Linked DNA regions of Homo sapiens. The protein of the gene in region 1 purifies or fractionates together with the protein of each later gene. This does not show direct contact. Each region holds a gene or a part of one and is shown in the gene's direction. Other genes may lie near its edges.

Region 1 (3,657 bases):
GAAAGCATGCTATTTTGGAAAGAAAGCCTTTATAAATACCCAGCACTGCTACACACACATACACACATGCACATATAGTTCTAGTGATGATTCTTCTAAGAAGATCACTATTTCTCCATCTTCAAATAAATTCTGAATGTATTAATTGAATGTGCATTCTGAACAATGCCCCACGGCCAATTAAAAAAGAAAGAATGAATGACTGTCTTGGTCTTTGTGCTATTAGGGAGATATATAGATGATGTTACAATACAAACTAGAGCATCTCGTGAAGTAGAAGAAAGTTCCTAAAAGCAATGGAATCTCAGACGTAGAGATGAATTCTAATTGGGTCGTTTAGAAAAAGCTTAATGAAAGAAACACGTCTGAATGGACTTTGAAGGATTTATTAGTCTTAATGTTTGTTGTACTAGAAGACAAGTGGATAATTTTTATTTGTCTCCTTTTTTTTTTTTTTGGCAGCTAACAGAGACCCCATAGTAAAAATCCTGGGCTCTGATTATAATACAATGAAAGAAAACTCAATTGCATTAAATATTCTTGGCAAAATTACCAGAGATGATGATCCTGAAAGTGAAATTAAGATGAAGATTGCTATGCTGCTTAAGCAATTGGATCTGCACCTCCTCAATCATTCTCTAAAACATATTTCATTGTGAGTCTTTTTCAAAAAGGAACCTCTATTGTATTGAGCCAAGATTGCACCACTGAACTCCAGCCTGGGTGACAGAGCAAGACTCTGTCTCAAAATAGATAGTTAAATAAATAATAAAATATTACAATTAAAATTAAAAAATTAAAAAGGAACCTTTAAAAATTAGTTACAAAGTTGCTTTCAGAGTTTTAGAAAAAAAGACACAAGAAAAGTAAAGTATGGAAGTTATTGCTATGGATTTAACTTTACATTTTATTGGAACAAACAATTTTCCTGGGATTCATTTATTCCAGTTCTAAAAATTAAAAATTGCAGGTGACATCACGAAAACATTCTGGTGGGGTTTCATGCAATTCTGAAGACATTAGGTGGTCTTGTTATTTTCAAATGCTCTCAAGACTATTACACAAATTATTAAATTATAATGCAGATATCATGTAGAGTTTGTATAGTCCAAAGCATGTTCATTTTCTAATATTTTTAGTGTTAGAATATTATCAGCATGAAATAAAGTGAATATTTAATGGAGTACGTTTAATGTTGCATTAAACATAAATCACTAATTACTTGATGTGTTGACAGTGCTGTTATAAAATTATAGCACGGCTAAAATTAACTGCAATTTTAATTACAAAAAAGATATTTCTCCTGATACAATGAAATGTGTTCATGTGTTTCCTAGATTCTGTTTAAAGTATTTAAGCTGACATTTTAAACATTTATTTCAGAGAAATAAGTTTAAGTCCCATGACGGTGAAGAAGGATATAGAACTGCTCAAACGTTTCTCAGGAAAAGGAAACCAAACAGTCTTGGAATCTATTGAATATACCTCAGGTTTGATGTTTTCTCAGGCTCATTTTATGTTATTTACATTTTCATAATTACATTTGCAAAATGCTTTCAATGTCTACATTACAAGAGAAGGTTTAAGAAGGGGAAAGCTTAAAATTTCCACAATATTTATTTTGTGGAAGCCAACACTTTTTACCAAACTCTAGGTTAAGGAACTCCTGTTAATTGCTTGATGATTGGTTTCAGATTATGAATTTTCAAATGGATGTCGAGCCCCACCGTGGAGACAAATTCGTGGGGAAATTTGTTATGTGCTGGTGAAACCTCACGATGGTGAGACTCTGTGCATTACTTGCAGTGCAGGAGGAGTATTTTTAAATGGTGTAAGTAAATTTTTAAAAACGTAACTAAAGCCAGTGGACTTTGATTGTTAGCTGTAGATGTCTCAAGGGTGTGTCCCAATGACCACAGAGAATGAATTACCATTCTGTGGGATAGAAGCAGATTCCTTTGATATATGCTTGCTGGGCAAATCCAAAATAGCTTCAGAATTAGCTCTCTTATTCTCCACTGCAGGTCATTAAGCCAATCTGATAAGAAATGGGCTTCAAAGTGACCCATTCCACTTTATAAATGTCTTTAACGTAATCACTTCACTGATTCATTACACAGCTTCCAAATGATAGAAAGGTCAAAAAAGAAACATTGAGATAATACAGATGTCATAACTGCAGCTTGCATCCTAAGAGTTGGAGGGACAAAGGGAAAGAGAGGGGCTTATCTAAATGTAGAAGGTAGGAGACAGTGCCCTATGAAGCTGGGACCCAGACCTCTTGGGAGGGTCCACTTCCAGGCTGTGCTGGTCCCCACAGAGTTCAGACCATCTCCATGAGGCAGGGCTCCAGATCTCTGAAGAGTGGGCACTGCCCAGTTAATGCTCATACCTCGGGAAGAGGATCCTTGTAGAGATGGCAGAGCTGGGACCTGGACCTTTGAAAATGGAGCACTGGATGACTGATAGTGATATTTCCCAGGGGGTGAGGTGAGCCTGTTTCTGGGACCGTGAAAAATCAACAAACCTGGAAACTGGAACCAACTGTTGCTACTGGAAGCAACTGCCACTGTGTGGAAAGAAGGGCCGTTGCTGGGGTGACTCTAACAGGGACAGTGGGCCAGCAGGAAGCAGCAGGTCCCTCCTCCCTCTGCCAGCCTTTCAGTCTTCCTTTAGCTGATTCTAATGACGGAGCCTAATAACCTAGCCTGGTGAAAGGAGAAATACGACATTGCAGATTCCTGCGTGAGTAGCACAAAGTAGAGGCTGGGTGGCTGGGCTTTGAGCTGAGTGATAAACAGCACACAGTGTTCTGGATTAAAACACTTTCAGTCTCATCCCTATTCACAGAACCAGCTAGAAGGAGCTTAGCTTTCACCTCTGCAACATCCTGCCCTCAGTATCTTCAACATAAATTTGGAACTCAGAAACAAAATTCTACAAGGAGGATCCAAGTCCTTAATGGGGACCCAGCCATCACGGGGGACTGCCTGGAGGGTTGTTACATGTTGGCTTGGGTTGGTACCAAAATGCTGGAGCCTCTTTTCTGATTACCTATAGTTATCTTTCTGACATGCCTTTTGGTGCTTTTCTTATTAGCATGACACTGAGCTCATTTCTACAAAGAGGCAGTAGACAAATAAGATTTTGCTTTGGTTTATGATATTTTAGAAAAACGAAATCTCTAATTAGGAATAAAGGGACAAAAGAAGGAATGATTTTCTTTGACCTTCTGGAGGGGGGCAGGGAGTCTTTATTTCTATCAAAGGTTATTATTGATCTACATACATATAACTTATTTAGCATGGAGATATCTAAGTATCCCTTTAAGTTTTAAAAAAATGAAAGACAAGGACCATAAAACTACTCAATAATTACAACAAAGTTTAAAACACACTGGTCATACGTATAGAAATGTTTTTGTGTATACAGTTATATATAACAAACTGCAGTTATATGTATTTATATACATATAGTTATGTGATGTGTGTATACATTATATATATATATTCTGTTATGGAAGAACAATAGAGGTAGGGAAGAAAAGGAAAATGAGGAAAGGAAAGAGACAAGAAGAGAGAGAGAGACACATGGGTGTGTGGACAGATCGTTACACAGAGATCTAGAAAATAAGCCTATAGCAACCATGCCACAGAC
Region 2 (3,613 bases), on another chromosome or scaffold:
ACCACCAGTTGTAACACATCTTAGCAGATTCTACTTCAGGTTGCATGAAATTTGTGTTTTCTTCTTATAAAATATTCATGCTTGTAATTGTGCCACACAGATAATTCATAGAGACTAATTTCAGTCACTTCAACGTTGGCATTGACTTATCAAATAAGCAATAACTAGGCAGTGTCAGTAACATCTGTTGACTCATCAAGAGCCAAGGAAAACCACTCAGGGTCATTTGCCTTGTTTTTTATTGACTGTTGATGTTGTTCCCAGTGTTCTCAATTCTTTAAGCAACCATTCTTGCCAAAAGGCTAATTTAATAGTCTTAAGTTTACTTTGGACACAGTCCTTCAGCCGATAGAATCAAACACAATTTAGTTATCGTTAGTAAAATGTTTTCCTTGCTTGGTTAACATCTGAGTCACTTTGGCTGCAACTTTATTTTCATTTTTGAGTTTGTTTTTTTTTTTTTTTGAGACTGAGTCTCATTCTTTTGCCCAGGCTGGAGTGCAGTGGCACAATCTCAGTTCACTGCAACCTCCACCCTGCAGGTTCAAGCGAGTCTCCTGCCTCAGCCTCCCAAGTAGCTGAGATTACAGGCACATGCCACCACACCTAACTAATTTTTATGTTTTTAGTAGAAATGGGGTTTTACCATGTTGTCCAGGCTGGTCTTGAACTCCTGACCTCAAGTGATCCACCCACTTCAGCCTCCCAAAATGCTTGGATTACAGGCATGAACCACTGCATCTGACCTCCCTATAGTATTCTTTAAGAACAGCTATAATGACATTGCATATTAAACATCATACTCTGACATCTAATCTGATTTTTAAAAATTCATATACTAATGTGCCTTAAAAATGTCACTTCAAGTCTACTTTTCTTTTTTTCTCTTGTTTTGATGTTATGGGTAAGCACTAGTAATAAAAAATTTAAAAATATTGTGGTATGACAACATATGTGGCACTCAAAATGCTGGTAACTGCATTACTGCAGTTTTTAGTGTGCCAAGTAGCAGTGCAAAATGATGACAGCACCACATAAGTCTCCTTTGCATTTGTTCAACTCTGCCATTCTAATGTGAAAGCAATCATAGACAGTACCTAAACGAATGAGTGTGGCCATGTTCCAATAAAATTTCATGAGCACTGAAAGTTGAATTTTACATAATTTTGATGTGTTACAAAATACTACTGTGTTAGCCATTAGATTTTTTCAGCCATTAGAAAATGTGAAACTGTTCTTATGAGCTGGCTGGATTTGGCTTGTGGACCAAATTTGTGACCCCTATTCCAGAGTATTTTCGAGTCAGTTAATCCATGTTTGCCCATTCCTAATTTTATAAACCACATTCAAACCTGTTAATTCGCTGTTATCATTCTCATTTTGCCATTTAGATTTTAAAATGAAGAGCAGTGTTTTGTTAGAAAAAACAAAATGTTTACCATAACAAGAAAGATGTGTAGACAAGAAAGATATTTATGTAGACTCTTTGTTTGTTAAATTTTGAAGCCAGGTGATGCATTGTTAGCTTTGACAACTGACTTAAATTTTTGTATAATTATTTATCTTTGCATTTTGCTCAGGTAAATTATCTTCCCAGAGTCTAGAAATAAAGATATCCCTGATCCTGTTTAAGAGCATAAATAATACTCTCAATGTAAATTGTTTTGAAATAAGATCTTAAAAATACAAAATGTAGACAATTAATATTCAGGTGCTTACTTTTGAGCCAATATGTAGCAGAGAAAAACTAATTTCTCTGTGGCAGTATTTTTATTTTTGGCATTTCCCAGGAATTAACTGAAGACTAAAACTCATATGTGAAGTGTAATGATACTAATCAAAGAGTCAGTAAAATTTCCATTTGGCTACCATGTATGTGTGTATATATTTATGTATGTATGTGTGTGTTACATATTTGAGACAGGGTCTCACTCTATTGCCCCAGGCTGGAGTGCAGTGGCATGATCTCAGCTTACTGCAGCCTCAGTCTCCCAGGCTCAAGCGATCCTCCCACCTCGGCCTCCCGAGTACCTGGGACTACAGACACCACCACACCTGGCTAATTTTTTTATTTTTTATAGAGACACAGTCTTTCCATGTTGCCTATGTTGGTCTTGAACTCCTGGGCTCAAATAATTTTCCCACCTTGGCCTCCTGTAGTGCTGGGATTACGGGCATAAGCCACTGTGTCAGGCCCCATGTATGTTAATAGTGAATGTTTGGCTTTTCATTTGTTACTTTCAGCTATTAAAGGATACCTATTACAGACACAGGAATTTACATTTTCAAAGTCATTTTTGACACATCAGTGCTGCATCTACTTTTCTCCTTTTAGCACATTTGATATTGATACTTCAGAGAAACTTTTTTAACTACCCTTAAAATCTTGTCAATGACCATTAACTGCCAATCATCACCTCATTTGCTTTTTTTGACAACATACTACTAGAAACCTAGGCTGTGAGTGTAAAACCATAACTGTTAGAATCATTTTTTTGGCAATAGCTCACATTCTGTTAAGAGTCATTTGCTTTAATCAAAGATCATGATTTATTATATATTTTTTATAAGTAGGGATGGGGCCAAGATTATTCCTTTGGCACAGCAGTAAGTGTGCTCAAGATCTTTGCCTGTAAGCTTGAATATTTGGCTTAAATTTTGTGCATATGAATACTGTTAAAGGTATATTTGACTACATTTTGAAAGGAAAAAGGTAGTCCTGCTAAAATTGACATTTAGGGATATTTTAATCTATGTATTTGGTAAAGTAATTAGTGAAGTATTAGTTATAAAAATTTTAAGGAAAACATTTAAAAGCAAAATAGTCGTATCAGATAAATAGAGTAGAATACACTAAAGATAAAACAAGTCTCTGTTACAAATGAAGTTGTCTGTACAGACGACTGAGATATTTTAATTTTATTTACATAAAAATGCTGTTCAATATCTAATGATTTCTGTTGTTTGTATTCTGTACTTTAGAGTAATAAAATAAGTTTGAGTATCTCATTAGTTCACTTTCAAAATTGATCATTTCAGGGCACTGCTGAATATAATGGAAGGTTTGGGTAAATAGGTTTGCGTCACAGCCCCTGTGAAATTACCAGCCTAGATGAGGAGCCATCCGCCTGTGTACAGAACTCTTTTTTTTTTTTTTTTCATTTCTCTCTCTATATATTTTTTATTATTATTATACTTTTAAGTTTTAGGGTACATGTGCACAATGTGCAGGTTAGTTACATATGTATACATGTGCCATGCTGGTGCGCTGCACCCGCTAACTCGTCATCTAGCATTAGGTATATCTCCTAATGCTATCCCTCCCCCCTCCCCCCACCCCACAACAGTCCCCAGAGTGTGATGTTCCCCTTCCTGTGTCCATGTGTTCTCATTGTTCAATTCCCACCTATAAGTGAGAATATGCGGTGTTTGGTTTTTTGTCCTTGCGATAGTTTACTGAGAATGATGATTTCCAATTTCATCCATGTCCCTACAAAGGACATGAACTCATCATTTTTTATGGCTGCATAGTATTCCATGGTGTATATGTGCCACATTTTCTTAATCCAGTCTATCATTGTTGGACATTTGGGTTGGTTCCAAGTCTTTGCTA

The links. Proteins that work in one complex are often made in the same cells at the same time.
Region 2: the proteins of ODAD2 (region 1) and FBXL4 purify together in Homo sapiens (affinity purification with mass spectrometry; one large-scale study listed by BioGRID and IntAct). This does not show direct contact.

Annotation. Positions count from the first base shown.
Region 1 is NC_000010.11:27,982,017-27,985,673, reverse strand, and holds part of ODAD2 (outer dynein arm-docking complex subunit 2), read left to right. Parts: intron 1-462; coding exon 463-655; intron 656-1,383; coding exon 1,384-1,490; intron 1,491-1,694; coding exon 1,695-1,831; intron 1,832-2,392; exon of another isoform or gene 2,393-2,478; intron 2,479-2,663; exon of another isoform or gene 2,664-2,745; intron 2,746-3,657.
Region 2 is NC_000006.12:98,867,934-98,871,546, reverse strand, and holds the end of FBXL4 (F-box/LRR-repeat protein 4), read left to right. Parts: 3' UTR 1-3,012; downstream 3,013-3,613. UniProt on the Homo sapiens protein: Substrate-recognition component of the mitochondria-localized SCF-FBXL4 ubiquitin E3 ligase complex that plays a role in the restriction of mitophagy by controlling the degradation of BNIP3 and NIX mitophagy receptors.